Linked DNA regions of Homo sapiens: regions 2, 3 and 4 are each linked to region 1. The links come from fine-mapping of genetic effects on gene expression. A gene starts in region 1. Each other region holds a variant in brackets. All regions are shown on one strand. Distances are between the middles of the regions.

Region 1 (8,104 bases):
CCCCTCTTCTGTTGGCTTCCACTGCAACAAAAAGCCAATAAACACTAAATCAACATCTGGCAACTGTTAAAAGAGGAATGATGCAACAGCAGGGCAGAAAGATAAGAAAGCTCAAACTTTCCTGGCATAGGCACAAAGTTCGTTGCTTAATGTAGTTATGAGATAATAAATATCTATGAAAAACTATTTGTCAGTTTATTTAAGAGAGACGTGATAATAAGAAACCCTTTAATTCTGCTTAATAAAAGCAACTGATATTTATTTGGGGGCAGAAACTATATAAAGTCTTTATATAAGCTGTTTCGTTTAATCCTCTCAACAGTCTCATGGCTAGGTATTATTATCCCCACTTTACAATGAAAAAGAATGGTGGCAAAATAATTTAATTTTTTAAATATTTCACAGGTAATAAGAGATGAAGCTGGAATCTGAAAACCAGAAAGTCTAACTTCTGAGACCATGTTCTTAGTATTGTATATGCTTACATAGAGAGCCTTGCTGTTTCCCTACAGAATTTAGCTGTTTCCTTTCCTTTATTGTTTCATCCCCAGAAAACTATCTTAGTAACCTCTTTAAAAGTAAAGTAGATGGCTGTTAACTTAAAATACTATATATGACACCATGTAATCTTTTTTTTTCTTTTTGAGATGGAGTTTTACTCTTGTTGCCCAGGCTGGAGTGCAATGGCGTGATCTCAGCTTACTGCAACCTCCACCTCCCAAGTTCAAGCAATTCTCCTGCCTCAGCCTCCCAAGTAGCTGGTATTACAGGCGTCCACCACCACACCCAGCTAATTTTTTTGTACTTTTAGTAGAGATGGGGTTTCAACATGTTGGCCAGGCTGGTCTCGAACTCCTGACCTCAGGTGATCCACGCACCTCAGCTTCCCGAAGTGCTGAGATTACAGGCATGAGCCACTGTGCCTGGCTGACACCATGCAATCTTAAAAGCTGAATGACTATTTTTGAAATCCTATGGATAATCTGGCAAAAATAATTGAGCTTATCCTTTCGTATAGTGGATTGATTAGAAATGAAGTTCTACTCAAGACCCATTAATGTAGGACCATCAAGTTAAACTTTTTTTCTTTTCCACTCTGAAAAAATACAACAGATAATGTTTGCTTCTAAATAAAATTGCAGAACCACTAGCAATTCATTCTCAGTTGGATCTCCAGAGCTGACCATACAAACTTCTACTTGTTTCTCCCATTCCTCTTAGTTGTCAATCCTTTCCCATTACTTTCCCATTTCTCTCAGTTGCAAATCCAAACCATTTTCACATTTCAAGACTTAATTCCTATTCCCCCATCTTTCAAACTTGTCTCCTATGTTACTGTGGAAACTGAGGCCATCAGACTTGAATTCTATGAACTCTCTCCTGCCAGATCTACAAATTTATCCCCATGTTCACCCATCCTTCTAACATTCTCTTAGAAGATAAGGTCTCATCTCCTTCTGGCCCAAATCAAATTCTCTACCTGTGTTTTTGGTTCTGTCCTCTCCCATCTCTGCAAGGACCTTGAACCATTAATTTTCCTTTCTGCCTCTTGTATTGTGTTAGATTTGCCAAATATATTGCTCCCATACCCACAATTTCTTATGAGGGGAGGTGATGTTCCCATGATCTCTGCAAAGGAATAGCCATGTTTCGCACTATGCAAACTTCTCTGTACTACATGATTGGACCAAGTGGGCACCTATGTCAAAGGGCATCCAATTTACAGAGTGCCCAGATAATTCAGACATGGTCTGGCATGAAATGAGGAGCACGGCCTGTGACCTTTTTAAATTTTTTCAAAGGCTGCTTAGTGCTCTAAGAACAAGATATCCATTTTAAGTGAAATGAGTGGATTTTTATTATTAGAAAAGTTATGAAATGATCTTTGATGCATGTGTTGCCTGTGAAAGTCATTCACTTTAATGTTCAGTGGGAGTAAGTGTAATCCATGTAATTGCTAGAAAGCTAGGCATCTTAGCACAGGAATAATCACACTGAACATTAGTAATGATAAAAATATCATTTATAGCGGCCTATCATATGGATTTTAAATACATCATCTCTGTCATGATAATCCCATGATATAGGTTCTAATATTACCAATTTTCAGATAAAAAAAAAAAACTAAGGCCCAGAGAACTTGGGTCACTCAATTAATAAGCAGCAGAGCTAATTAGAGTCTGGGTCCAAAGCTTAAGCACTCTTCGTCTTCTTTATATTTGGCTTTTTCCTAGCCAAAAACATGGAGGCATTGCTTACTTTTACTTTATCATTGTTATCTTGGCATAACATCAAAATAATTAGGAGCTGATATACCTAAGTGTATAAAACAGGATAAAATTAATTGATGAGGAATTAGATAAGGAAAATAAAATCAAACTAGGGGCAAATTTCATGTATAAAAATGTGTACTGTGCCATACATTTTGTAAGTGGAGTCTCTAAAGATTGCTTCATAAGGAAGAAGTGAATAATGACTTTGGGAACACTTGGTAACCCCTAGGACTCAAAAGATTGGGTGTGAGAAGTTATTAGTAAGCATATGTATTAGGCAAAATACAGTGAGATGAACCTGGAACAAATGCTCGCTGAATGCACTTAGAAATATTATCAGGCGACTCAGCCTATAGAGCATACGGGTTAGAATGTCTATTTTAAGAAGGAGCGGATATTTACTAAATGCTAATTTGAGCAAAGTTCTACAAAAATATCACTGACCATGAATATTCAGGCATTGACATGCTACAAAATAGCATATCGAAAAGAACATCTGTTGCCCTAAAGATGGTTTCCTGCACAGAACGTCTCCAAATTTTCAGCATTCATAGGCTGGCCCCGTTTCTTCTTGGTTAACATTTAGAGGCACGCCTAAACTTAGAGGAACACCTCTCTAAACCAAGGAGACACTTAAAGAGAAAAGGAGTAAAGATGGTGATGGGCTTATAAAGAGCAATGTAATAGTGTCTTTGAAGCAAAAGCTAACTTAATGAAAACGTGGTCCCAATTTCCTTAAATCTGGATCACCGTACGACTTCTGTAATACTTATTATTTCCCCAGCTGGCAAATAAACTGGAGTTCAAGTGGGAAAAAACAAGGTATTGTTCAGACTTATGATTTTTGGGGTCAAAGATTCTGAGCAATAACCTATTAAAAAACCCAGCTTTTGATTTGAGTATGTAAGTAAGTACATGGGAGGAACGTATGGATCTGGAGTGGTGGTAAATACAGAGCATGTTTGCTTCGCAAAGCAGATTAGCTCATACTTAATAATAGAGTAAATCTGTTGGGCCATGACTCAATGCACCCAAATTCTCTAGATTGCTATGTCTCTACTCGCTAAGCCTTCGGGAACAACAAGCACAGAACTTTTAGGGTGCTGTCTCACTGATGTCGGCGTTAGCTCTGGTAGTCCAGGTCAAGATTATACCAAAGATTCAGGACTTAAATTCCTGCAGAATGTAAGCCCCTTTCCAAGTTCTCTGCTTTACTGTATCCTGTTTATTTTCAAACTCAAATGGAAAAAAACGAAACAAAAACCTTGGGCTTCAAGAGGCATCCTGCCGCAAGGCCCAGCGATGTGAATTTTCAACAACCGTCTCAGGCAGATTTCATGCTGATGGTTCAGGCACTAAACTTTGAAAAACACAGTATCACAGAGTAGGGATGGTGATGTAAGAGTCATCTGTAAAAGCTGTGCTGTTTTGGCAGCCTGGGAGGCTAAGGTTTAGTCTAGGCGACTAAGGTTTAGTCCGGGCTGTATTCACACCCAAAACAACTAAAAAAGCGGAGGAGTCTTTGAGTCAATCCCTGAAGCTCCGGCTAAGAGGAAACTCGCCCACGCTCCAGGGCAGCGACGCCGGCTCCACCTCAGCCACGGCTGTCTCAAGCTTCTCGGGGTTTTCCGCCGGCTCCACCCGAGCCACAAGTCTACAGGACTCCTCGGAGCTTTCCGCCGGGACGCAAGACCCACCGCCAGAGGTTGGTACCTCCTAGAGAACAGCGAAGCGCATCCCGAGGGCCGCCGGCCGGAAGCGCCCTCCAGACCCGCCCCCTGCCCTCCGGAGCCGGAAGCTGGGCATCTGCAGCTGGCTCGGCGCACTCCACTGACCGTCCCGACGATGCTACGCGCGCCCGGCTGCCTCCTCCGGACCTCCGTAGCGCCTGCCGCGGCCCTGGCTGCGGCGCTGCTCTCGTCGCTTGCGCGCTGCTCTCTTCTAGAGCCGAGGGACCCGGTGGCCTCGTCGCTCAGCCCCTATTTCGGCACCAAGACTCGCTACGAGGATGTCAACCCCGTGCTATTGTCGGGCCCCGAGGCTCCGTGGCGGGACCCTGAGCTGCTGGAGGGGACCTGCACCCCGGTGCAGCTGGTCGCCCTCATTCGCCACGGCACCCGCTACCCCACGGTCAAACAGATCCGCAAGCTGAGGCAGCTGCACGGGTTGCTGCAGGCCCGCGGGTCCAGGGATGGCGGGGCTAGTAGTACCGGCAGCCGCGACCTGGGTGCAGCGCTGGCCGACTGGCCTTTGTGGTACGCGGACTGGATGGACGGGCAGCTAGTAGAGAAGGGACGGCAGGATATGCGACAGCTGGCGCTGCGTCTGGCCTCGCTCTTCCCGGCCCTTTTCAGCCGTGAGAACTACGGCCGCCTGCGGCTCATCACCAGTTCCAAGCACCGCTGCATGGATAGCAGCGCCGCCTTCCTGCAGGGGCTGTGGCAGCACTACCACCCTGGCTTGCCGCCGCCGGACGTCGCAGGTGACCCCCCGGGCGGCCCGTGTGCTGTCCCGGTCCTCCCACCCGCCCTGGATGCTCTCCCGCCTCCCCCAGACCCTGGGCTTTTCCGATGCCCCCCAGTTCTCTTTCCTCTTTTCCCAAGCCATCATCCCTCGGGCTACGTCCTCCCTGTCGAGGGATATTACAGACTTGGCTATCTCTTTTTCCCCTTACACGTATGTTCATTTATTAATTCATCAGGTGTAAATTCAGCACCTTGTACTCGCTGCCTGCTTTAGTAGAGTTGGGGATCCAACAGGAAAGGGGACAGACGAGGTCTCCCGCAATTTTTGCGCTCCCGTTCCCAAACTGAATTGCCCCTTCGAGCGCCAACCCATCCCTTCCCCCTTCCCTGGCGTCTAGTTTCACAATTGGGCGCACGTTTTAAAAAACAGAATCTAGAATTTTCTTCCTCGGGCTTTGCTTCCGATACTAGTTTTTCCTTCTTTCTTTTTTTTTTTTTTTAAACTCATCATCTTTTTCAGATGACAGTTTTAGACCTACACCCTGTTTTAGGAACCTGATCTCAAGCCTTTGTGTCCTCCTTTTTTCTTCTGTTTTGTTCATGTTTTTACTGTAGCGTTCCCATCGTTGTAGCTGTGGTCCGTGGTCACAAGCAGTAACAACTCATTTATTCCATTAATTACACTTTTTCGAAATTTGAGAAATCATCTAGTAAGGCCCCGTTATTTCACAGGTGAAGAACCCGAGCCCAAGAGTATGCCTTCTTAATTGTCTTTCTCTAAGGTCTAGTATCCAAGTCTTCTGTTTTCCTAGAATGGTTCTTTTTCTCTTAGAAAATGTTGTAATAGTTACAAATAATAATGATAGCATACACCTCATGCCTATTGTATGCCAGGTATGCCTCACATTTATTTTACAAAATCCTTACAACCACAATCTGGAGTTGATAGTATTTTCCCCTTATCTCAAAGATGAGGAAATTGATACACGAACACATTAAATAATTTGCCCATTTTCATACAGCTAGCTGTGGACCCAGGAAATCTGATTCAGAGCTTGCTTTCTTAGCCATTATGCTATACTGCCTCCATTTGTCCAATAACATACCTAATAAGAATAAAAACATGTAACATTTTTGTACCACAGAGATGAGCAAGCATTAATAGTTTCTTGATCACTTTTAAGGCCAGAATTGAAGTGAGGATTATTGTTTAGCTTCAAAGCCCAAGTGAAAAATTAGAAGTAGGCTGGTTTGTAATTTCTTCTGTAGCTGTTGAACAGTGAAACCATCTGTAAGGGATTTCTCCACTGATTCTGTGTCATGTTATTGTGGGTAATTCAGTTAGCTGACTTGTGTCTAATTACTTGTTGAACTGTGTTTTTTTTTAAATATATACTTTTTCCATTAGCATGAGTGAAAATTCCTCATAAATCTGTTAAATTAACAGAATGGTGAAAGCAGAACATATTTTAATATAACACAATATCTATAGCGACTTCCTGGAACAAGTGAATTTTTGTTCTCAGATGGCATTGCGAAGACTGGCATTTGACTCTCAGTACAGAGCCAGGGATGAAAATACTACAGTTCAGAATAAGCCCACTCCTGACCGTTTTCAGTGTCAGATAGCAAACCCTTTGCCTAGCCACTTTATTATTCTCTATAGACAATAGTTTTGCCTATTATGTACATCTGGTCTTTTGAGGGAGTCTGCTGAATTAGATTTGTAGTTTTGTAGAAACAGAACAATGCCTTTGTTTTTGTTTAAAGACTAGCAATAATTAGATAGTAACAAGGATAAAATACCCAGATGCACTTGGGAAATTATATTTTAGTGTACACAGAAAAAAGGTGACAAAGTTCGCTTATTTTCCTAGTCAAGATATTTTCTTAAGAATTGCAATCCAGTTGACAAAGTGGGCAGAATTATCCATTTCAAGAGAAACAAACATACATACTGATTTTTTTTGCATACACATCCAAAGCCCAGATAAAACTATATTCAATTTTCTCATATTTTATGTACAAAAATGATATACTTGGTGTTCTTTTCGTGGTAAATTGTTGGAGAAATGATTGAAAAATGTGTGTTTTGAATATGACTGAAAAAAACGTAAAGGGCACACCAGTAGTTGAAGCATGATTATGAATGCTTCTCCAATACATATTTGTTGCCCAATTGGGGGCATAATGTAATTTATTAAATTTTATATAGAAAGTTATCTGGGGCTTCAGTTAAAAGATAAACCAATTCACAGGCCCAGCACAGTGAAGCACAGGAGACCCAAAACATCAGTGCGTTTTGTGCTGCTGTCAGTAGTTTTTGTCCAAAGCAGAATCTTTGTAAAGTAATACAGAGTTGGGAAGGTTAATTGAGAAAATAAAATACTCTGTTTAGACTTTGGCTTAGAGTGAAAAAATAGATTCCATATGTTGAATTCTCTCTCACCTTGTAAGTAGAAACTTTGCTGATTTTTAGTTTGCTTTCTAAAGTTTTCCGTGCCTGACAGAAACAGTACTTATTAATGTATGATGCAATTTCATTGCGTAGCATCTCTACAACACATTTAATCTTCAATCTCTATTTCTTTAGCCTTTTCTAGCTATTCTCATGCGTTACAGCCATTATAAATGGGGAATAATTTTACCCCAAGAGTTTCCTGACCAATATGTGCTTATTTCAGCTGTGCGGATTAGTAAGATGTTAGTGTTCCTTTTTCACACTTAACATTTTCAATAATTTGAAACTGTCATTTATGTCAGTGATTTACAAATACATATAAATTTTTTTCTCTTTCAGATATGGAGTTTGGACCTCCAACAGTTAATGATAAACTAATGAGATTTTTTGATCACTGTGAGAAGTTTTTAACTGAAGTAGAAAAAAATGCTACAGCTCTTTATCACGTGGAAGCCTTCAAAACTGGACCAGAAATGCAGAACATTTTAAAAAAAGTTGCAGCTACTTTGCAAGTGCCAGTAAATGATTTAAATGCAGGTAATATGTCTGTTGTCTTTTATTTGAACTTAACAGTTTAAATAATTTTGAACTGTGAAAATGAAAACATAAGGAAACAGTCTTTTTTAAAGACCCATAATTGATCTACATTAAGAAAATAATATGTTCTGGGTCAAAAAAATTGTATACCTTGTGCTTACTATTTACCATTTTTAGATTCATATTCTTCTTTGAGTGTTATTTAAATTACTGTACAAGATTCTAGTTATATTCTGGAGTTTTTTTGAGGGCAGAGTAATATAAAGCCTCAACTGTAGGCATTATTTTTAAAACAAATTATCTTTTCTGAATTTCCCCCTGATAAAGTGATACAAATGGAAAAATCATATAAATTCTTTAGCTTTTGA
Region 2 (8,104 bases), 140 kb before region 1:
GCAGACAGATAGACAGCAGCCTCAGGGGAAAGGGGCCCTGTCCTCTGAGCTCAGCTTTTGCTTCCTCCTGACCAGGGGTCTCCCAGGCCTCGTGCCCCTGGGTTATCTTTCAGGGGCCCACAGTCCTAGCCTCAGGACTCCTGCATCTGGGCATCATCCCTGATGCCTTCTGCCATAAATCCCACCCCTGGCCAGCTGAAACCTGGAGGAGGGGTCCCCCGAGACCCTCCTGGACCTCGTGGCCCTGAGTTGAGTCAGGAAGCCCCGTTGATGCCATGGGCTCTGCAGGGGCCGGGTGAGGGAGGGTGAGCCCAGAACTCTGGGAGCAGCTTTCTCCTGGGACTGGGGGATGGGACACAGTGAGGGCCTGGACAGCCCACCCGAGGCACTCCCTCCCATCCCTGCCCTCGGCCGCTGCCTGGTCCTGGGGGGAGGGGGCCTGGACCCTCTCAGCACAGCCTGGGCCTCCTTCACCGCCAGGTTCCTGGAGTTTGAGGCTGAGGAGGAGATGCAGATTCAGAAATCGCAATGGATGAAGGGGCCCCAGTGCCTGCCTCCTCCAGCCACACCGAGGCTTGAACCTCGAGGACCCCCGGCCCCTGAGGTGGTCAAGCAGCCAGGTATGGCTTCCCACATTCCCACAGGAGCCATGGCAAAGGCCAAAGGGGCCAAGGGAGGCCACTGTCCCCACACCCCATGCTTCCCTTCGAGAGGGGGATTTGCTCCCTCCAACAGGACAGTTTCCAGGAGCATATGTTCGGTATTGACCTGGTCAAGTTTCCTAGCTACTCTCTCCCCTCGCCTGTCCAAAACTCCACATATGCTCTGCCCAGGAAGCAGGGATGAGCGGGGAGAGTACACGGCATATTGGTGGCTCCAAACTTCCTCCCAAGCGATGCTGTCTCAGATGTGCCCCTCCTGCCTCCTCCGGGGGTGCTGCGGTTCAGGTGGTCCTGACCCAGCTGGGACCCACTTCACATCCCCAAGCCCTGCCCTCCCCTGTGTGGTGCCAGCAGGAGGAGCGGCCCTCACCACGCCCGTCCTCCTCCCTCTCTGCCTCAGTGTACCTTCCCAGCAAGGCCGGCCCCAAGGCCCCGACTGCCTGCCTGCCACCACCCAGGCCCCAGAGGCCAGTGACCAAGGCCCGCCGGCCACCACCCCGGCCCCACCGGCGAGCAGAGACCAAGGCCCGCCTGCCACCACCCAGGCCCCAGAGACCAGCAGAGACCAAGGTCCCTGAGGAGATCCCCCCAGAAGTGGTGCAGGAGTATGTGGACATCATGGAGGAGCTGCTGGGGCCTTCTCTCGGGGCCACGGGGGAGCCCGAGAAACAACGGGAAGAGGGCGAAGTGAAGCAGCCACAGGAAGAGGACTGGACGCCCCCAGACCCGGGCCTCCTGAGCTACACTGACAAGCTGTGTTCCCAGAAAGACTTCGTCACCAAGGTGGGCTGGCCTGGAGTGCTGGGGTCTGCTGGATTCCAGGGGGTGGCACTCCCAGGTCCTTGGAATTAAGCTCTGTTCCTTAGCTACTCAGCAGTGTGTGTATTTCCAAGGATTTGAGTGTCTGTGTATGTGATTGTGTGTGTCTGTGTGTTGCTGTGTGTTTGTGTCTGTGGTTTGTTACTGTGTGTCTTTGTGTGTCTGTGTGGGTGTGAGTGTGGAGTGTGTACGTTACCTGTGTCTGTGTCTTTTCCTGTGTCATATGTGGGTCTGTTTGTGTGTCTGTGTGTGGTTTGTGTGTCTCTGTCTGTGTGTGTGTAGCTACCAGGTCTGTGGTCTGTGTCTGTAGCTGGTGGTCACCATGATATGAGACAGCCCCAGGAGGGTGGGGACGGGGCGCTCGCTGCTTTCTGCATCTCCTCCAGGTGTCCTTGGCTCCAGGTTACTCCCTGCCCAGGAAGCTCACGCCTTCTTCCTTCTGTTTCCAGGTGGAGGCCGTCATTCATCCCCAATTCCTGGAAGAATTGCTTTCCCCAGATCCACAGATGGATTTCTTGGCCCTAAGCCAGGAGCTGGAGCAGGAGGAAGGACTCACCCTTGCCCAGGTACCCCAGGGGCAGGAGGGACCTGGCACACAAGGCCCACCTGATTGTCTAATCCCCCCCGCTGGGGATGCTCGGCTTCTTGGGGAGCCACTCTGGAGTGGGAAGATGCAGGTTCAGAGGGAGTAGGATGGACAGGAGCCAGGGAGGGGAGTCAGCATGCAAGCTGTGGTGAGGCCCAACGGGAGGCCCGGCAGAGCCACACCCTCTCTCTTTGACATAAAGCCCAGCTGCCTCAGGCTTCCCTACCTGCCGCCTAAGTGCCCTGGTCTCCACCACCCTGGGCCCCGCTCACACCTGGGGCAGTGCCCGTAAGTGCCCCCTTTCCTCCCGCAGCTAGTGGAGAAGCGCCTCCTACCCTTGAAGGAGAAACAGCATGCGAGGGCAGCCCCTAGTCGTGGCACAGCCCGGTTGGACTCAAGTTCTTCTAAGTTTGCAGCTGGCCAAGGAGCAGAGAGAGACGTCCCTGACCCCCAACAAGGGGTTGGCATGGAAACCTGCCCACCCCAGACGACTGCCCGGGACTCTCAGGGACGAGGCAGAGCACACACTGGCATGGCCAGGTCCAAAGACTCTGTTGTGCTTTTGGGATGTCAGGATTCCCCTGGGCTGAGGGCTGCCCGGCCAACCTCTCCTCCCCAGGACCACAGACCCACCTGCCCTGGCGTGGGTACCAAGGATGCCTTGGATCTCCCTGGAGGGTCTCCTGTCAGGGAGTCACATGGGCTGGCTCAGGGGTCAAGTGAGGAGGAGGAACTCCCCAGCCTGGCCTTCCTCTTGGGTTCCCAGCACAAGCTTCTGCCCTGGTGGCTACCCCAGAGCCCTGTCCCTGCCTCGGGCCTTCTCAGCCCAGAAAAGTGGGGACCCCAGGGAACTCATCAGTCCCCATCTGCTGAGAGAAGAGGCCTCAACCTAGCACCTTCTCCTGCCAACAAGGCCAAGAAGCGACCTCTCTTTGGAAGCCTGTCCCCTGCTGAAAAGACACCCCACCCAGGGCCTGGGCTCAGGGTCTCTGGGGAGCAATCCCTGACTTGGGGGCTGGGTGGCCCCTCACAGTCTCAAAAGAGAAAGGGTGACCCCTTGGTCTCCAGGAAGGAGAAGAAGCAGCGTTGTAGCCAGTAGGGGCTTCTGAGCAGGCTCTCTGGGGCCGATCCCCAAGGATGGGGCTCTGGCATCCGATGCCCCAAAGCGGTCAAAAGCTTCTTCTCCCCCAGTGCTGATCTTGCTGGGCCTTAGCTTTGGAGGGTAGGGGAGGGAGGGGAGGGAGAGGGTGGCCTGAATGGGGAGGGCAGGAAGGGAGGGTCTGGGGGGAAGGGGCTGGGGAGTGGGGGTGGGAAGCAGTGTGTTGGGGGCCTCGTGTGTAAGTGTGAATAAATGTAGTTGTCTTGGAAAATGCTCTTGGGGCTGCTGCCTCTGTCCTCGGTGCTGTGCTGCTCCGTGGAGGGTGTCTGTGAGGGAGGGCAGAGGAAC[T/C]GGCAGATGCCAGGCTCTGGGAACCCACAGAGGCCGGCCCCACTCTTTCCTCCTGACGTAGGGAGCCCCTTCAGATGCTCCAGGGACTGACAGATGCTGAGGAAGCCCTGATCCCTCCCACCACCCACTCACAAGGCCCTGCCTGCTTTAGGGAGGCTTCTTGGGGCCCCCTCATCGTTATCAGCATCCCTGGAAAATCCTGGGATTGGAGAGAGCTGGCTGGCTCTTGTTCTGCTCGGTGGGAGCTGAGGAGAAGGCAGCCGCCTGCAACATGGACATGGGGAGAGGAGGCTGCTCCTGCTTAACCCTCATCAGGAAGAGCGCGGGCACTGGGCTGAGGGGAGACGTTGAGGTGACCATCCACACAGGTGTGTTTGGGATACGATGATGGGTGGGGAGCAGGGGAAGTCCTTCTGCCTGTTTCTGGGCAGGAGAGAGTCTTGTCCAACTAGCTAAAGCAGATGCTCCTTGCTGTGGCCACAGGGACTGGCCTCGGGGCCCTCAAGGTCCTGCATGGAGCCCCCCACAGCTATGATTCCCTTCCCATATGATGACTGAACTCATGTGGAATTGATGTAGACACAGATTTACATTGGTTTCTAAAACAGTTCCCTCCCAACACACCATCACCAATGGGAACAAGCATGTCCAGTCCATCAGGCGCAGGGTGGGGGTTTCTGCTGGTTCCAGGGCCCGGAGGAGCTGGGGCCCAGGCCAAGAGGGGCCGAGGGTCAGCCGCCCTTCTGCCAGGCACAGACCCCAAGGGCAGAGCAGGGGCTGCCTGGGATGTGGCATTGGCTGTCTGGGAAGTGCCCTGGGAGTTGGGGGCTAGGTGTTCGCCAAAGGGAGACTTCCAGAGTCTATGAGTGAGATGAGGACTGCATCAGGAGAGGGACCGAGGCTGGGGAGGATGCTCTGCTCTTTCCCAGGTTGTCCTGTCTTCCCAATCTCTGCTGAACTGCCCTCACCCCATGGGCCAACTCTGCCCCCCTTACCCCTAACCCACCTCTTAGAATCTCAGATCCCAGCGTGGACAGGACCCGGCACCCACCCTGGTTCCCTCCTGGCCAACACCTTCTTCTCCACGGTCTGAGTTCTGATTCCTCCCCCAGGGCGCTTATTGGCTCAGGACCCCTGTGACTGCCAGGGCACTGGTCCCAGCACTGCCTGCGTGCAGAGCTGTGGTCACGGCCCTGGGGGCTGGCCCAGCAGCAGAGGCTGGTGGGGCAAAGCTGTCTGGTACACGGTGGCCTGGCCCCTCGGCCAAGTGACAAAGGGAGCCATGTTTGGGTCCTCTCTGGCCCCATCTGCCCACAGAACACAGCAGTCAGCCTGACAGATGCCCCTCTGCCCCGTCCCTTCTGCTCGATGTGGGCAGTGTCGGAGGCCTGCTGTCTTCTGTGGCCTTTGGGAAGGAGAGTTTATCTTGGCAGGGCTTCCCCAGCTCAGTGCACGTCAGGCCCTCGGGGAAAATGTGGGGAGCGAAGAGTCACTGGTGGGTGATGTGGGCAGCTCCCGTGACTCCTCTACATTCACGGCCATCCTCAGGAGATAAGGTAGCACTGCCCCTTTGCAGGGTTTAGGAATGTTAAGTGAGCCGTGTTTGAAGGGAACATGGTCCATACTCTGGCGTGTGTGGGTGCCCAGCCAACTTCCTCACCTAAGGGTGAAAGTGACACCTTGGGGCTCCTGCTGGTTACCCCACTGGCTGTTGTCTATCCCACTGTCCCTGTCCTTGTCTTGGCTGAGCCATTCCTAGGAAGCAGAACTTGTGCTTCCTCCACCTCTGTGTCCCACCTGAGCCCTACAATCTGCCCCTAAATGGGCACAGTGGGGCTGACTGGGGGGCTCTGGTAGACTGAACATACGTCCCCCGCCCAGTTCCTGTGCTGAAGCCCTAACCCCCAACGTGATGGTATTTGGAAATGGGGCCTTTGGGAGTTATTCAGGGTTAGAAGAGACCATGAGGGTGGGGCCCTAATGATGGGATTAGGGCCCTGGTAAGAAGCAGAGACCCCAGAGCTCTCTCTCTCCCTGACACGAGGACACACTGAGAAGGCGGCCATCTGCAAGCCAGAGAGAGAGCCCTCACCAGAACCTTGCCCACTGGGATGCTAACCTCGGACTTCCAGCCTCCAGACTGTGACAAATACATTTCTTTTTTTAATATGTGCCACCACCCCCAAGTCTATGGCCCTTTGTCCGAGCAGCCCTATGTGACTAGGACAAAGTCCATAATCTCAAGAACTTCCTTCATGACTGGTATCTGGAAACCGTGCATCAGAGCCACGGGAAAGAAAGGCTCAGCCCTTTACAACTGTCAGCACACCTCCACCCCAAGTGCAGTGTATCACACATGAACCAGGAGAGCCTGGGACACAGTGAAAAGGAATCTGTAAATACCCATGATGTCATCGCATCCACACTTGGGGAAGCCATGCAGCTTGCTCACAGCAGGTGCTGGGGGTGTGCTGAGGCTCTTGGTCGGCTTGGCCTCCCTGCTCACACACCCAGGTCACTCTCTGGGAACCAGTGCGGCTGGGGTGGCCCCTGGCAGGTTTGCCTCCAGAGACCCCTCCCTTCACCATTGGATGACAGATCCCCGAAGAAGCCATAGCCTCCTGGGAAACTCCATCTGACAACGTGAGCAAGGCTTGCCCCCGTTAGTGAACATGCTGTGCTTTCTGACAGCTATGAGGATGGACTTGATCCAGGTGGCTGCCCTTTTGTAGCTCACTTTGATTCTAACTTCAGCGTTGCATGATGCCCTATGAATGGAATATACAATGTGTGTCTTTCACATCTGTCTTCTTTCACTTAGAATAATATTTCCAATGGCATCTACATTTTTAGTATGTATCATTACATCAAACCTTTTTGTTGCTGAATAATATTCCATTAATGGATATACTAAAATTTATCCATTTATCAGTTAAGAACGTTTGGGTTTTTTTCACTTTTTGGCTATTGTGAATAACACTTCTAAGAACATTTGTGTACAAGGTTTCCTGGGGATGTATGTTTCCATTTCTCATGGCTACATACCTAAGAGTGAAATTGGTGGACCATATGGAAACTCTGTGTTTAACCATTTCAGAAGGTGCCAGACTGTTCCCAGTGTACATGAACCATTTTATATACCCACTAGCTGTGTGAGGGTCCCAGCGTCTCTCCATATTCGAGCCAACATTTATTATCAACTCTCTTTTTGATAAAGTCATCCTAGTGGTTCTGAAGTTGCATCTCATCGTAGTTTGCATTTGTGTTTCTCTGATGTTGAACCTCTTTCACGTACCTATTCGCCACTTGTATATCTTCTTTGGAGCAATGTGTACTCAACATTTAGTAATTTTTAACTGGTTTGTGTTTTGTCATTGAGTTATAAGAATTCTTTATATATTCCAGATAAAAATGCTTTACAAGATATAATTTGCAGAAATATTCTCCTTCTGTGGGTTGTCCTTTACTTTCTTGATGGTACTCTTTGAAGCACAAAAGTTTTTACTTTGGATGAAGTCCAATTTATCTATTTTTTCTTTTGTTACTTGTGGTTTTGATGTCATGTTTAAGAAACCGTTAACTAGTCTTAGGTCATGAAATTTATTCCTATGCTTTTTCCTTTTTTAAAAACCATCTTAAACATTTTAAATTGTACAATTTAGTAATGTTATGTATATTCACATCATTGTGAAATTTAGATCTTTAGAAATTTTTTATCTTTCACAACTGAAATTTTGTACACATTAAATACTAATTTTCCCCCTACTCCCACCCCCGGCCCTTGGCAACCACTACTTTATGTTTCTGTGATTTCGACTACCTTAAATACTTCATATGAAGGGAAAGTATTTGTCCTTTTGTGATTGGCTTATTTCACTTAGCATAATGTTCTTGAGATTGATCCATGTTCTAGCATGTGACATGATTTCCTTCTTTCCGTAGGCTGCTTAGTCTTCCATTGTATGTATATACCATATTTTATCCTTTCATCCACCAATGGATATTTGGATTGCATCTCTTGGCTACTGTGAATAATGCTGTAATAGGGATTGTATGGAATTTGTAAATTGTTTTAGGTAATATGGACATTTTAACAATATTAAGTCTTCAAATCCACATGCATGGAGATGTCTTTTCATTTATTTATATACTCTTTGATTTCTTGTAGCATTGTTGTTTTGTAATTTTTAGTGTCCAAGTTGTTTGCCTCCTTGGTTAAGTTTATTTCTAAGTATTTTGTTCTTTTTCATGCTATTATAAATAAAATTGTGGGTTTTTTGTTTTTGTTTGTTTGTTTGTTTATTTGTTTGTTTTTGTAGTAGAGACAGGATTTCACTATGTTGGCCAGGCTGGTCTCAAACTCCTGGCCTCAAGTGATCCGCCTGCCTCAGCCTCCCAACATGTTGGGATCACAAGTGTAAGCTGCCGCACCTGGTCTGAAATTTTCTTCTTAATTTCCTTTCCATATTGGTCATTGCTAATGTATGGAACTGCAATGGATTTTTGTGTGTTAATTTTGCATTTTGTAACTTTGCGGAAATCATTTATTAGTTCTTACAGGTTTTTGGTGGAATTTTTAGGGTTTTCTAC
Region 3 (8,104 bases), 110 kb after region 1:
CAGCCCAGCGTGAATGTGATTTTCCTGACAAACAGTTTGGATTGCTTCCAACCCCTCAGGCTCTGTTCACCAGACTCTATGGAAATTATTTCCCTTTCCAGACAAGGTTGTCTTCTCCAGTACAAAATGGATTTTGTACTCTTTTGCCCTAACTCAAACTGCCTTTCCCTAACGATTCTCTAGAGGTCCAATTCTTCCAGTGAAGAAACTGAGTAAATCATTTCTGACCTGCCACACTCATCTGCTCCCCACATTCACACTGGGTTGCCGGCCTCCATACCTTTGATAATGTCCTTGCCTGCACCAGAGTTACCCTCTTCAGCACTCTCCTTCCCCCGTATCACCACCACAGATGAGAGCACCAGCTTGATGGCAAGGTCAGCTTAAAACACTCCAAGAAATGTGTTTCAAAACTCACTGCAGGTAAAAGTGTCAGGGCCACATACTGAGTTTCATGGGCCTTATGTACTTTGCCTTTGTGGGCCCCTGCACTCCATCATCCATTTTCATGGGCTCTAAATGTTTTATTTTCTTCTGGTGTGAAGAAAAAAAAAACATTTTCTTTAACCCTAAGTTCACTTTTTTTCTTTTGATTTTAAAAGAAATTAAAACATTTTGGTGGGCCCCTAAAAGTATTGTGGAGTTCTAGGCCAGGGGTCCTCAACCCCCAGGCCCAGTATCAGCCTATTAGGAACTGGGCCACACAGCAAGAGGTGAGCAGTGGGTGAGTGAGCGAAGCTTCATCTGTATTTACAGCTGCTCCCCATCGCTCGCATTACCACCTGAGCTCTACCTCCTGTCAGATCAGGGGTGGCATTAGATTCTCATAGGAGCACAAACCCTATTGTGAACTGCACATGTGAGGGATCTATGTTGTGTGCTCCTTAAGAGAATCTGATGCCTGATGATCTGTCACTATCTCCCATCACCTCCAGAAGGGACTGCCTAGTTGTAGGAAAACAAGCTCAGGGCTCCCACTGATTCTACATTACCATGAGTTGTATAATTTTATTATATATTACAATGTAACAGAAATAAAGTGTACAACAAATGTAATGCATTTGAATCATCCCAAAACCATCCCCCACCCTGGTCCATGGAAAAATTGTTCTCCATGAAACCAGTCCCTGGTGCCAAAAGGTTGAGGACCACTGTTCTAGGCATTGTGCCTAATGAACAGTCAGATCTAAGACTGTATCTTATGTAATATGAAAAAGGTAGTTCGGCCTGGCCACAGTGGCTCACGCCTGTAATCCCAATACTTTGGGAGGCAGAGGCAGGCAGATCACCTGAGGTCAGGAGTTCAAGAGCAGCCTGGCCAACATGGTGAAACCCCATCTCTACTAAAAATACAAAAATTAGCCAGGCCTGGTGGTGCATGCCTGTAATCCCAGCTACTTGGGAGGCTGAGGCAGTAGAATCACTTGAACCAAGGAGGTGGAGGTTGCAGTGAGCCAAGATCGTGCCACTGCACTCCAACCTGGGTGACAGAGCAAGACTCCACCTGAAAAAAAAAAAAAAAGAAAAAGGTAGTTTGGTATATGATATGGTTTGGCTGTGTCCCCACCAAAATCTCATCTTGAATTGTAGCTCCCATAATTTCCACATGTTGTGGGAGATAAGTGAATCATGGGGACGGTTTTCCCCATACTGTTCTCATGGTAGTGAATAAGTCTCACAAGAGCTGATGGTTTATAAGCGGAAACCCCTTTCACTTGATTCTTATTCTCTGTTTGTCTGCCGCCCTGTAAGATGCCCCTTAGCTCTTCCTTCATCTTCTGCTATGATTGTGAGGCCTCCCCAGCCACATGAAACTGTGAGTCCATTAAACCTCTTTTTCTTTATAAATTACCCAGTCTTGGGTGTATCTTTATCAGCAGCATGAAAACAGACTAATACAGTAAATTGGTACCACTAGGGTGGGGTGCTGCTGTAAAGATAACTAAAAACGTGGAGGCAAATTTGGAACTGGGTAACAGGCAGAGGTTGGAAGAGTTTGGAGGGTTCAGAAGAAGACAGGAAAATGTGGGAAAGTTTGGAACTTCCTAGAGACTTGTTGAATGGTTTTAAACAAAATACTGCCAATGATATGGACAATGAAATCTAGGCTGAGGTGGTCTCAGATGGAGATGAGGAACTTGTTGGGAACTGGAGTAAATGTCACTCTTGCTATGTTTTAGCAAAGAGACTGGCAGCATTTTGCCCCTGTCCTAGAGATTTTTGGAATTTTGAACTTGAGGGAGATGATTTAAGGTATATGGTGGAAGAAATTTCTCAGCAGCAAAGCATTCAAGAGGTGCCTTGGGTGCTGTTTAAAGCATTCAGTTTTAAAAGTGAAACAAAGCATAAAAGTTTAGAAAAATTGTAGCCTGACAATGTGACAGAAAAGAAAAACCCATTTTCTAAGGAGAAATTAAAGCTGGCAGCAGAAATTTGCATAAGTAACAAGGAGCCAGATGTTAATCACCAAGACAATGGGGAAAATATCTCCAGGGCATGTCAGAGACCTTTGTGGCAGCCCCTCCCATCACAGGTCCAGAGGCCTAGGAGGAAAAAATGGCTTCATGGGTGAGGCCCAGGACCCCTCCGCTGTGTGCAGCCTAGGGACTTGGTGCCCTGTGTCCCAGCTTCTCCAGATGTGGCTAAAAGGGGCCAAGGTACAGCTCAGGCTGTGGCTTCAGAGGGTGCAAGCCTCAAGCCTTAGCAGCTTCCACACGGTGCTGAGCCTACAGGTGCACAGAAGTCAAGAATTGATGTTTGGGAACCTCTGCCCAGATTTCAGAGGATGTGTAGAAACGCCTAGATGGTCAGGCAGGAGTTTGCTGGAGGGGCAGAGTCTTCATGCAGAACTTCTGCTAGGGCAATACAGAAGGGAAATGTGGGGTTCAAGCCCCCACACAAAGTCCCCACTGTGGCACTGCCTAGTGAACTGTGAGAAGAGGGCCACCATCCTCCAGACCCCAGAATGGTAGATCCAACACGCACCTGGAAAAGTCACAGACATTCAATGCCGGCCTGTGAAATCAGACAGAAGGGAGGCTGTACCCTGCAAAGCCACAGGGGCAGAGTGCCCAAGACCATGGGAATCTACTTCTTGCATTAGTGTGACCTGGATGTGAGAGAGACATGGAGTCAAAGGAGATCATTTTGGAGCTTTAAGATTTGACTGCCACACTGGATTTTGGACTTTCATGAGGCCTTTAGCCCCTTTGTTTTGGCCCATTTCTCCCATTTGGAATAGCTGTGTTTATCCAATGCCTATACCTACATTGTATCTAGGAAGTAATAATTTGCTTTTGATTTTACAGGCTCATAGGTGGAAAGGACTTGCCTTGTCTTGGATGAGACTTTGGACTGTGGACTTTTGAGTTAATGCTGAAATGAGTTAAGACTTGGGGGACTGTGGGGAAGGCACGATTGGTTTTGAAATGTGAAGACATGAGATTCGGGAGGGGCAAGGGGTGGAATGATATGATTTGGGTGGGTCTCCATAAAAATCTCATCTGTAATTATAGCTCCCATAATTCCATTATGGGAGGGACCTAGTGAGAGATAATTGAATCATGGCGTGATTTCCCCCATGATGGTTCTTGTGGTCATGAATAAGTCTCGCAAGATCTGATGGTTGTATAAGTGGAAACCCCTTTCACTTGATTCTTATTCTCTCTTTGCCCACCGCCATGTAAGATGTCCCTTTGCTCTTCCTTCATCTTCTGTCATGATTCTGAGGCCTCCCCAGCCATCTCTTTTTCTTTATAAATTACCCAGTCTTGGCCGGGCACAGTGGCTCACACCTGTAATCCCAGCACTTTGGGAGGCCAAGGTGGGTGGATCATGAAGTCAAGAGATTGAGACCATCGTGGCCAACATGGTGAAACCCCATCTCTACTAAAAATACAAAAATTAGCTGGGTGTGGTGCCACATGCTACTCAGGAGGCTGAGACAGGAGAATCGCTTGAACTTGGGAGGTGGAGATTGCAGTGAGCCGAGATTGTGCCACTGCACTCCAGCCTGGCGACAGAGCAAAACTCCGTCGAAAAAATAAAAAAAAAATCACCCAGTTTCACTTATGTCTTTATTAGCAGTATGGAAACAGACTAATACAATATAGATGTTCAGAGTACCAATCCCGGAGCAAGGCTGTCTGGGTTTGAATCCTGACTCTGCTACTCTTTGAGGCCTCTGGGTGACCTCAAGGGAGTTAATTAATGTCTTTGTGACTCAGTTTCCTCATCCGTAAAATAGGGATAATACTATCACCTGGTTTATAGGATTGCAGCAATGGTTAAATGGGCTAATATGTGCTAAAACCAGTGACTGACAAGTAGCACTATATGTTA[G/A]CTATTATCATCATTAATTATTGTCAATATTAGGTACTTGATCAGTATATAGAATAAAATGAGCAAAACAATGAAATTCTTCTTATGACAAAATATTATTTTCAGCAATATCAAAGCACTTTAAAATAAGGACTCTGTGCTGGGTGCAGTGGCTCACGCCTATAATCCCAGCACTTTGGAAGGCCAAGGCAAGCAGACTGCTTGAGCTCAGGAGTTCCAGACCAGCCTGGGCAACATGGCAAAACCCCATCTCTACCAACAACACAAAAAATTAGCCAGGTAAAGTGGCATACACCTGTAGTCCCAGCTAGTTGGGAAGCTGAGGCTGGAGGGTTCCTTGAGCCTGGGAGACCAAGCCTGCTATGAGCTGAGATCACATCACTTCAGCCTGGGTGACAAAGTAAGAGCCCATCTCAGGGGAAAAAAAAAAAAAAAAAAAGGAAGGACTTTACATTCGGACATAATTATTTCTATTTTTAAGAAAGAGGAAAACAAAATAAAAACCCTCTGGGAGATGAGGCAGACTGTTGATAGTATATGAATGCATCTTTTTCTGCACATTTTTGGAATCACAGACCCTTTTCAGCTGGAAGTGTTTAAGAGGCCATGTATCCCAGCCTTGCAAAGAGTGAAAAGAATTTTTCCCATGACGCAGCTCCTTGAACACTTAAAGGAACACAGAGTTGAATCTTTCCTCAAGCATCTTATTTCACCATCAATCAGGTCAGGTCTTAGAATGTTCTCCCATATATGCTGGCTAAAATATTATCTCCCTGCAGCTTCCATCCACTTATCCTGCTTCTGCCTGTTTGAAGCTACTTAGAACAAGGTCATTCTCTTTCAGATAACAAGCTCCCAAGTATTTTCAGATGGGGCTCAAGTATTCTTTTGTCTTCTGTCTTCCAAGGTAGTATTAATTTTTTCGTCCATGTCTTGGGGGCCATGACTTACATTTGCTTCACCAACCTGATCTTTCTCCACAGGGTGCAGCCTACTGCCACTCTTACTACATGGCATCCCAATGTGAACATGGTACACCACCTCTGCTCTGGCCAGGCAGAGCCCTGAGGGAGCCCTGAGACTGTCACCTTCTTTGTATTAGTAGAAATACAGATTAAGATCACTTGAGATGTTTAGGTTGTTGCATTATACTTTTAGTTTAATTATACTATAGTTCTCAAGCCAGGTGTGTTGAGCCGTTTTTTTGTTTCTATAAAGGAATACCTGAGACCGCATATTTAAAAAGAAAAGAGATTTAATTCGCTCACAATCCAGCAGAATGTACAGGAAGTGTAGTGCCAACGTCTGCTTTTGGTGAGGTCTCAGGAAGCTTACGATCAAGGTAAAGGGGGAGCAGGTGCCTCTCATGGTGAGAACGAAGGTGCCATACTCGTAACCAGATCTCATGTGAACTCAGAGCGAGAACTCATTATCATGAGGAAGGCTCCAAGCCATTTGTAAGGGATTCGCTCCCATGACCCAAACACCTCCCACGGGGCCCCACCTCCAGCACTGGGGATTGCATTTCAATATGAGATTTGGAGGGAACAAACATCCAAATCATAGCATCAGGTTTCTCCATCCTTTACTTCTACAATTCATTTTATAAACTTGACATACCCTGTTATAACCACTTCTAATCTTACTCTTTTGACTCAATGTCTGAACCTATTAAGGCTCTCTTAAATCTTGATTTTCTTTTAGCAATCGCATTAGGTTTCCCATCCAGTCTTTTGCCACGTTCGAACTTGATAAGCATATGATTGCATCCAAGTCAGGCACTTACATCTTCCCCAAGGCAGGATCAGACCACTCATCTAAGGGACTGCCTCTGGGTTGACATATTTTTTTGGATGTAGTTAAACCAGTTTTGAAGTCCTAATTACCATCATTTAACTCAAATGTCTTGCTCTTAACTACAATGTGATCAAGATGATAACAGGCCAATTCAAATCAACATTTAGTTTGTCGAGGCCAGTAGTCTGCGAACCTAGATGCCCTTAAGAATCACCTCTTTTCAAATAAAGGCTAATACAGATTTCCATGTCTTGCCTCTGAGACTCTGAGTCAGAAGGTTTTAAGTGAGGCCTGAGAAGTAGTAATTAAAAAGCACTCCAGGCCAGGCACAGACTCACACCTGTAATCCCAGCACTTTAGGAGGCCAAGGTGGGTAGATTGCTTGAGTCTAGGAGTTCGAGACCACCTGGGCAACATGTTGAAACCCTGTCTCTACAAAAAATACAAAAACTTAGCCAGGCATGGTGTGCCTGTAGTCCCAGCTATTTGGGAGGCTGAGGTGGGAGGATCCCTTTAGCCTAGGAGATCAAGGCTGCAGTAAGCCGTGATCCTGACACTGCACTCCAGCCTGAGTGACAGAGCAATACCCTGTCTCAAAAAATAAAATAAAATAAATAAATAAACAAAGCACCCTAATGGTTGATAGCACTAGTACTTAGGAACCAAGTGATCTTTCTAATCAAAGTGTGGCCAAAGTGTAACTGCAGCACCTGGGGGCTACTTGGGAAAGCTAAATCTCCTGCCCTACCTCAGACCTGAATCAGAATCTACCCTTGAACAACATCCCAGGTGATTCATAGGCACATTAAAGTTTGAGGAGCACTATGTATGCAGTTCCTACAAGTTAGCCCTCTAATTACTCAAGAAGGAAAAGAAGAGGAAGAAAGGCAAGAAAAAGAGAAGTTCCACCTTCTCAGCTTATCAAAATTGCATACAAATTTAAACGTGGGTGAATTGCTTCACCTCTTTTTACCCGAATTTCTTGGTCTATCAAGTGGGCATGGTGATCACAGCTACCTCACAAGGGTGTCGTCAGGATTAAGGGAGTGAATGCTGGTGAAACACTGAGAACAGCACCTGCCCATGCCAAGCTCTCAGTGTTATGGGGTGAATTGTGTCCCCTAGAAAGATATGTTGAAGTCCTAACTCTTGGTACCTGTGAATGGACCTTATTTAGAAAAAAGGGTTTTTGCAGATGTAATCAAGTTAGGGTGATGTCATTAGGGTGGGCTGTAAGCCAATAGGACAGGTGCCCTTATTAGAAGAGGCAAACGCCATGTGAAGATGCAGACACACAGGGAGAAGGCCTTGTGAAGATACAGGCAGAGACTGGAGTGGCACAGCTGCGAGCTAAGGAGCATCAGGGATGAATGGCCACCAGCAGAAGCTAGGAAGAGCAAGGAAGGATTCCCCTACAGGTTTTGGAGGGAGCATGGCCCTGCCAACATCTTGATTTTGGACTTCCAGCTTCCAGAACTGTGAGACAATAAATTTTTGTGGTTTTAAGCTACCTAATTTATGGTGCTTTGTTATGGCAGCCCTAGAAAACTAATTGAGTATCTTGGTCATAATGATTATGGTTGCTACTATAATTGCTAGCAATTGCTGGCATAGGGTTGAGCACTGCAGAGACTGTGGTAACCCTGCCCTCAGGAAGACGACAGCCAAGAACTGTGCCTGGAGGGTGGTAGTAAGTGGATTTTACCCATCTGGTGGGCATTTCAGAGGAGGATCACAATAGGGGAGCAGGTAAGGAGGCACTAAGCAATCTTGGGTGCCCAGAAAGCCTTCCTAGAAGAGATGTCACCTATGCTGAGGGACTGGTAGGGTGAGGTAGGTAAGAAAGTTGCATATGCTGTTCCAGGCAGAGGGACAGTATTCGAACACCCCTGAGATGAGAGAGGCAACCAGTAACAGCTCTGAAATCACATCTGCCATTTCCCTGGTCTGCAAGTTGCTTGCAGAC
Region 4 (8,104 bases), 350 kb before region 1:
TGGCCTCCCAAAGTGCTGCGATTACAGGCATGAACCACTGTGCTCTGCCCCAAAATGAGTAATTTAAAGGTGACTGTAATATAGTTAAACAAATGCCTCTTTTCCCATTCTTTACTAACTTGTTATTTAAATGGGGCAAGTTTTTACAACATAAGAAATAAACAGGCCAGGCGCGGTGGCTCACGCCTGTAATCCCAGCACTTTGACAAGCAGAGGCGAGTGGATTTCTTGAGGTCAGGAGTTTGAGACCAGCCTGGCCGACATGGTGAAACCCCGTCTCTACTAAAAGTACAAAAATTAGCCGGGCGTGGTGGCACAGACTGTAATCCCAGCTAATCAGGGGGCTGAAGCAGGAGAATTGGTTGAACCTGGGAGGCGGACGTTGCAGTGAGCCTAGATGGCAACACTGCAGTCCAGCCTGGGCAACAGAGCAAGACTCCATCTCAAATGAAACAAACATACTAAAAACCTATTTACTTGTTTGATGTGAGTGTGCTTAGCTTTATTCCCCTTAAAGAGAGTCTTTTTTTGAGATGGAGTCTCACTCTGTTGCCCAGGCTAGAGTGCAGTGGTGCAATCTAGGCTCACTGCAACCTCCGCCTCCTGGGTTCAAGCGATTCTTCTGCCTCAGCCTTCAAGTGGCTGGGACTACAGGCGTGTGCTACCACGCCCAGCTAATTTTTTGTTTTTAGTATAGACGGCGTTTCACGCTGTTAGGCAGGATGGTCTCAATCTCCTGACCTCGTGATCCACCCGCCTCGGCCTCCCAAAGAGCTGGGATTACAGGTGTGAGCCACTGCGCCCGGCCTAAAGTGAGTCTTTAGGTGAAAAATTTTTGTGAATATTGTGATTTCTCCTTAATAATTTCTTGTGTATTTATGAATTTTATATAATTAAATGGCATATCAAAAAAATCACCTATGTTAATTATGTTTTTGACTCAGTTATATTTTCTTTTGGTACATTATTAAGTTAATATCCATATGCAAAAATATGCTGACAATATATTAATTTTGGATTTTTCATTTTTATCAGAAATCATGAGTGGAGGATCTCAAGTCCACATTTTTTGGGGTGCTCCAATTGCTCCACTGAAAATCACAGTATCAGAAGACACAGCTTCTTTAATGTCTGTTGCTGACCCCTGGAAAAAAATTCAGCTTTTATACAGTCAACATTCTTTATATCTGAAGGATGAAAAACAGCACAAAAATCTTGAAAACTATAAAGTCCCAGAATCTATTGGTTCTCCAGATCTTAGTGGTCATTTCTTAGCAAACTGTATGAATAGACATGTTCATGTGAAAGATGACTTTGTACGTTCTGTTTCTGAAACACAGAATATAGAATCCCAGAAGATTCACTCCTCTAGACTGAGTGATATAACTAGCTCTAATATGCAAATATGTGGATTTAAAAGCACAGTTCCGCATTTCACCGAAGAAGAAAAGTATCAAAAGCTTCTCAGTGAAAATAAAATTAGAGATGAACAGCCTAAACATCAGCCAGATATATGTGGTAAGAACTTTAACACAAATTTGTTTCAGTTGGGCCATAAATGTGCAGCTGTGTTGGATTTGGTTTGTAGTACTGAAAAAATTAATATAGGGCCTGAAGTGGTACAAAGAGAGTGTGTGCCAACAGAATATCATGAAATACAAAACCAGTGTTTGGGATTATTTTCCTCGAACGCAGTAGATAAGTCAAGGTCTGAAGCAGCAGTTAGGAAGGTCTCAGACCTTAAAATATCAACTGATACAGAATTTCTCAGTATAATTACCTCCAGCCAGGTTGCTTTTTTAGCTCAAAAGAAAGATAAAAGGCGGAGTCCTGTAAATAAAGGGAATGTAAACATGGAGACTGAACCAAAGGCAAGTTACGGGGAGATAAGAATACCTGAAGAGAATTCGATTCAGCTTGATGGTTTTACAGAAGCATATGAAAGTGGACAAAACCAAGCATATTCCCTTGAACTTTTTAGTCCTGTTTGTCCTAAAACAGAAAATAGCCGCATTCACATAAACTCTGATAAAGGTCTTGAAGAACATACAGGATCTCAAGAACTTTTCAGTTCTGAAGATGAACTGCCACCAAATGAGATACGTATTGAGTTGTGTAGCTCAGGAATACTGTGTTCCCAACTAAATACCTTCCACAAAAGTGCTATTAAAAGAAGCTGTACCTCTGAAGATAAAGTGGGCCAGTCTGAAGCTCTATCTAGAGTCCTTCAAGTAGCTAAGAAAATGAAGTTGATTTCTAATGGAGGAGATTCTGCTGTAGAAATGGATCGGAGAAATGTGTCTGAATTTAAGAGTATTAAAAAAACATCATTAATAAAAAACTGTGATTCTAAAAGCCAGAAGTATAATTGTTTAGTCATGGTGCTATCTCCATGCCATGTGAAGGAAATAAACATAAAATTCGGACCAAATTCTGGCTCTAAAGTGCCTTTAGCAACAGTTACAGTAATTGATCAATCAGAAACTAAGAAGAAGGTTTTTCTGTGGAGGACTGCAGCATTTTGGGCATTTACAGTGTTTCTTGGAGATATAATTTTACTCACAGGTGAGGTCATTATGGTATAGTGGTAGCTTATTTTATAAAGCTAAGTTTTGTTTGTTTTTGTTTTTCTCCCACTTAGTCTTTGAAGACTCTTTAGTCATTTGCCTCTTCTGAGCGCAGCATAATTGATCCCTTTATCGCATCTGCATTGTTCTCCTTTCCATTGTCCACTCTCCTGCCCATTGCCACTTCTGGGCCTCTGTTCTATCCTTCTCAGCTCTGTCCCTTCTTTCCACTTATCCCCTCCTTTAATAAGCCTTCCCTAGTCAGGTGGAGTGGGTCACACTTGTAATCCCAGCACTTTGGGAGGCTGAGGCAGGAAGATTGCTTGAGGCCAGGAATTTGAGACCAGCCTTGGCAACACAGAACCCGTCTCTACAAAAAATAAATTAAGGTTTGCGTGCCTGTAGTCCCAGCTACCCAGGAGGCTGACGCGAGAGGATTGCTTGAGCCCAGGAGGTTGAGGCTGCAGTGAGCTTTGATTGGGCCACTGCACTCCAGCCCGAGCAACAGAGTTAGACCTTTCTGCTTCTTTACCTAATGTCTAATAATGCTGTGCACATTGTATTTTTACTGTGGGAACAGTTATTGATTTCTATTGCCTTATTATCAAAATTATATTAATTACACTTGGAAATATGGAAAGGAAAAAACTGGTATTATACCAACTTCATATAACCACCAATAGAGTTCTAGAGTGTTGCCTTCCAGTTATTTTCTCTGTTCTCCTTAAAATGTGTGTGCATGTGTGTATATATCACACATAGAAGCTCATATTTATTGGGAGCTTAGTTTGTGAGACCCTGTTTTAGATTTTACATGCATATTTCATTACAACAAGTATATGAGGAAGGTACTGATTTTTATCCCTACTTTTCAGTTGAGGAAGCTGAAGCCCAGAGAAGTAAAGTAACTTGTCCAATGTCATACATCTAGGAAGTGGCAAAGCTATAGTTTCTCCTAGACTCCAGAATTTATACTCTTACTATATAGTTGTAACCATAAAGAACATTTTGTTTTTTTAATTTTTAATTTATTTATTTTTAAGAGACAGAGTCTTGCTATGTTGCCAAGTGCAGTGGGTACTCACGGGCACAATCCCATTGCTGATCAGCATGAGAATTTTTAAATTGTTATTTTTAATTTTTTGTTTGTTTGTTTAATAGGGACAGGGTCTCACTGCATTACCCAGGCTGATCTCCAACTCCTGGGCTCAATTGATCCTCCTGCCGCAGCCTCCCGAAGTGCTAGGATTACAGGCGTGAGCCACCGTGCCCATGGTATTTTTAACATGCCCTTGTTTCCAACCTGGACCAGTTCACCCCTCCTTAGGGAACCTGTGGTCCTCCACTCCCAGGAGGTCACTATATTGATGGCAAGCTTAGTGCAGACACCTGATCGGCTACAACTCTGAACTCCTGGGCTCAAGTGAGCCTCCTGCCTCAGTCTCCCAAGTAGCCAGGACTACAGGCACGCATGCCGCTGCACCCAGAGAGAATATTTAATATTTTTTTTTTTTTTTTTGAGACAGTCTTGCTCTGTCACCCAGGCTGGAGCGCAGTGGCACAATCTTGACTCACTGCAACCTCCGCCTCCTGGGTGCAGGTGATTCTCCTGCCTCAGCCTCTCGAGTAGCTGAGATTACAGGTGTAAGCCACCATGCCTGGCTAATTTTTGTATTTTTAGTAGAGACGGGGTTTCACCATGTTGGCCGGGCTGGTTTCGAACTCCTGTCCTCAGGTGATC[C/T]GCCCACCTTGTCCTCCCAAAATGCTAGGATTACAAGTGTGAGCCACCGTGCCTGGCCAGAATATGTTTTCACCGAACACATCTAACATTGTGTTACATGTTCTTTGTTGATTTAAAATTGACACATGGTGTATTAGAGCAGGAGGAAGTTGATTAAGCTTAATAAAATATCTAAAGAAAGAATGTGATACAGAGGAGGTATTTAGAAGAAGAAAACTTCGAAGCAATATTGATAATCCTACCAAATAGTTTACAGGAGGAATGAGAACCTTAGCTAATGTACCTTGGTGTTCCTGTAGGATTGTCAAGTACAATCTTTTTTGTTTTTTTGAGACGGAGTCTGGCTCTGGCACCCAGGCTGGAGTGCAGGGGCGCGATGTCTGCTCACTGCAAGCTCCGCCTCCCGGGTTCACGCCATTTTCCTGCCTCAGCCTCCTGAATAGCTGGGACTACAGGCGCCTGCCACCGCGCGCGGCTAATTTTTTTGTATTTTTAGTAGAGACAGGGTTTCACTGTGTTAGCCAGGATGGTCTCGATATCCTCACCTCGTGATCCGCCCGCCTCAGCCTCCCAAAGTGCTGGGATTACAGGCGTGAGCCACCGCACCCGGCCGAGTACAATCTTTTATAAAGAGGTAAACACAAGATTGTAATGAACAGGCTTAGCATAGCCACATCCCACTGGCAGTATTAGCTAATATTATTTATATGTGATTATATTATTGGAGATTCAATTCACCTAACTCCCTCTGTTCTGATTCAGTGCTTGCTGAATACCTCTTTGCTTGTGATTTGGCTTTCTAGTTGTAGAGCTGCCCACAGCATGAGAACAGGCTGAAATACTGTTTTTTTGGGCAATTAATGCCTCATTGTAAATGAAAAAAAAATTTTTTTTTCTTTAATTTGTTTCATTAGTTGATTTAGTATGAGCTTATGTTGCAGAGCTGAAATCTAGTTTTGGAGTGTTAACAAAATTAAGTTTCCCAGACTGTAAAAGAGGGCTGGATCCTGGACCATGGTCATTTTACCGAGGCAATTAATGTCAGCAGGGACCTCTCAGGGGCCTTTTCCTTTTTCCTAGGTAGGTGTAAACTCAACTCTGCAATCTCTGTATTTTTTCCTAACATCTCTATAGTTGTTAACAACGAGGTAACATTCTCTCTGGTGGCTGAAATGCAATTTACTTAACCATTTTCCTATTATAAGACATTTAGATGATTTCTATGAACATTTTTTTTAAAAATCAGATTTTTTTGTCTTTTTAAGAAAAAGAGGACCTAGTTCACTTATTTCTGAATAAGTTTCTTTTGTGTGGAACAGATGGAAATGTTGGGAAAAAAAAGAAATCTACACTTTTCTGTTGTCCTAATGAGGCAGTGAACTTAGTTGGATAGCCTGGGTAGTTCATACTACCTATTGATATATACCCCCAAACAGAAATCTTCCTTTTTTTTTTTTTTTTTGAGATGGAGTCTTGCTCTGTTGCCCAGGCTGGAGTGCAGTGGCGCGATCTCGGCTCACTGCAACCTCTGCCTCCTGGGTTCAAGTGATTCTCCTGCCTCAGCCTCCCAAGTAGCTGGGACTACAGGAGCCCGCCACCACGCCTGACTAATTTTTGTATTTTTAGTAGAGACAGGGTTTCACCATATTGGCCGGGCTGGTCTCGAACTCCTGACCTTGTGATCTGCCCACCTCGGCCTCCCAAAGTTCTGGGATTACAGGCGTGAGCCATCGCGCCCGGCCCAAACTGAAAAATTTTAAGTAACAGATGTATTCCAGACCTTGTTGAATACCAACACAGCAGACAGTTTGCTATTATAACTTCTAGCAATAGAATGAAGAGATGCCAAAAATAAGGATTACCTAAGGGAGACTACTGACTAGAATTAGAAGAAGATGGGAGGCTTAACATTGGGAAACAACAGTGTTTAAAGGACAAACAGAATAAGGACTAGGAGCTGGGGCATGTCAGTGAGAGGGTAGGAAGGAGCCAGGAGGCCAGGGCGGGCTACCCATCCCCTCCATGCACCACTAGTGATTACCATGTCACTAATCCAACATATGCTTCACAGTCCTAGCTTTCAGAATGCTCTCCTTGAAATTTCTCGTCTGTTCCTTTTTTCTGAAGAACATGCATCCTGAATGTTGGATCATGAAAAGTCTTGAATGCTGTACTAGCTCTTCCTGGCTAGGCAGTGGGGAACCACTGTTTTTTAGTAAGTCACCTGAACTCATTAATGCTCTGATATATCACTCGCCTGAACTCATTAATGCTCTGATGAATGACTCATTAGCATTGTAAGAAATGGGTTGCAGGCGGGACAAGCACCTGTTGGGAGGGAAAGGAATGTGTAATGTAAAACAGTAGTAGTGGTGGGGCATGGGCACATTTAAGCAGCAGAGGGGTAGGTGGGGGCTGGTGGCAAGGAGTGGGAAGGGAGAGGCAAGATGACTTCAGATGTTAGTTTACTTGATTAGCAGCATAGCGTCAACAAATGAGTTGGGCGCTATGAAAGGAAAAGCAGGTTTGGACATTGCTGAGTTTGGGGAGCCAATGGAATATCCAGGTGGGAATTTCCATTAGGCAGTTGTAGGTAAAAGGTTCAAAAGCTGAGGAAAGGGTCTGGAATCTAAATCTGTAAGTAATCACTTGGAATTTATACATCCTTGGTTTTCTTTCCTATTATCTCTACATTATTTCACTATTGTTAATATATGTTTATACCTCTGACACTGTATGCTGATTAGATCCTGCCTTAGAGATAGCTCCCTTCCCCTCTTTCTCTTTACAGCTCACACGTTTTGCTCTACCTACAATTGTTTCTACCTGTTGGTATGTTTAGTTCTACCTGATTCTACTCTATCCGTCTTAGATATACAGCTCTCTCTTTCCAATTGGAAAATGTTCCCTACCTCCAAAGTCTTTCACTTTTAACTTATGTGGAAGATAATTATAGTGCTATTTAGGGAAAAATAATCAAGTGTGTTAAGAATGCCTTATATTCAGATATATTTATAGTAGAAGGGACCAGTGCATACTGAATATTATTACTCTCCTAGGCACTACGGCTTTGGAACCACTACTTTGCCTTCTGGTCCTAAAAAAAATTATTTTTAATGTATCAGAAATATACATGATAACATTTTCCTTATGTAAATAAAAACTATTAAGCCTTTTTTATATAGAGCAGTGGACTTCCATACTGCTATCATTTGAATATAAAGAAGCAATTTTGTTAATTTACCTAGATTTAGATTTTAGATTTGCTGTTTTCTTATTTCGTGCCTTTAGGCAGGTTATTTAACCTATTTGATCTCTACTTGCTTGGTATATGGGAGGCATGCATAGTATTTTGTTGTGACTAGTAGGTTAACCACATTGTGAAGGAATTTATGGCATGATCAGAACGTTTTTTCTCTCTCTAGATGTTGTTATTCATGAGGACCAATGGATTGGCGAGACAGTACTACAATCAACATTTAGCAGTCAGTTATTAAATCTTGGGAGTTATTCATCTATTCAGCCTGAAGAATGTAAGGCACATTTTAAATGAAGTAATGTAGTAGTGTTTAAAGTATAAAAACATACTAGGAAAGATTAGGGTTAAAATGGTTCTTTTACAAAATGTTTTCTAAACAGTTGGAGAGTATTGGTTTCTTTTCATTAGTAAGAATGAAAATAGAATTTTAAGAAATGAACTTGTACATTGTAAATCACATTTATTTTAAGAAGTATTGGGTCTCATGTTTCGTTTTCTTAGGCCATCAGTATAGTGGTGGTTCTTCACCTTTTAGGG

The links.
Region 2: its variant is fine-mapped to the expression of MINPP1 in breast (GTEx, PIP above 0.99).
Region 3: its variant is fine-mapped to the expression of MINPP1 in whole blood (TOPMed, PIP above 0.99).
Region 4: its variant is fine-mapped to the expression of MINPP1 in whole blood (TOPMed, PIP above 0.99).

Annotation. Positions count from the first base shown.
Region 1 is chr10:87,500,798-87,508,901 of GRCh38, forward strand. MINPP1 (multiple inositol-polyphosphate phosphatase 1) reads left to right here and starts at 4,096. Exons shown (of 5, transcript NM_004897.5): 1 at 4,096-4,755; 2 at 7,539-7,736. The coding sequence starts at 4,119. It overlaps MIR4678 (microRNA 4678), which reads left to right and starts at 3,084; the gene lies at 3,084-3,157. LOC112268064 (a long non-coding RNA gene) reads right to left here and starts at 4,037. Exons shown (of 2, transcript XR_002957094.2): 1 at 3,538-4,037; 2 at 1-21. RefSeq lists a cis regulatory region at 1-205 and enhancers at 4,066-4,155, 4,316-4,375.
Region 2 is chr10:87,363,759-87,371,862 of GRCh38, forward strand. It overlaps NUTM2D (NUT family member 2D), which reads left to right. Exons shown (of 7, transcript NM_001382304.1): 4 at 481-620; 5 at 1,063-1,445; 6 at 1,931-2,047; 7 at 2,381-3,437. The coding sequence ends at 3,166. Among named protein-coding and RNA genes, the nearest start is that of NUTM2D, 10 kb to the left of the region's middle. The variant T/C (reference allele first, on the strand shown) is at 3,515.
Region 3 is chr10:87,608,971-87,617,074 of GRCh38, forward strand. No RefSeq gene overlaps it. Among named protein-coding and RNA genes, the nearest start is that of PAPSS2, 47 kb to the right of the region's middle. The variant G/A (reference allele first, on the strand shown) is at 4,342.
Region 4 is chr10:87,150,315-87,158,418 of GRCh38, forward strand. It overlaps SHLD2 (shieldin complex subunit 2), which reads left to right. Exons shown (of 10, transcript NM_001330112.2): 3 at 1,036-2,565; 4 at 7,734-7,841. The coding sequence starts at 1,041. LOC124902475 (a long non-coding RNA gene) reads right to left here. Exons shown (of 3, transcript XR_007062222.1): 3 at 7,866-8,104. It also overlaps the pseudogene RN7SL733P. Among named protein-coding and RNA genes, the nearest start is that of SHLD2, 59 kb to the left of the region's middle. The variant C/T (reference allele first, on the strand shown) is at 4,309.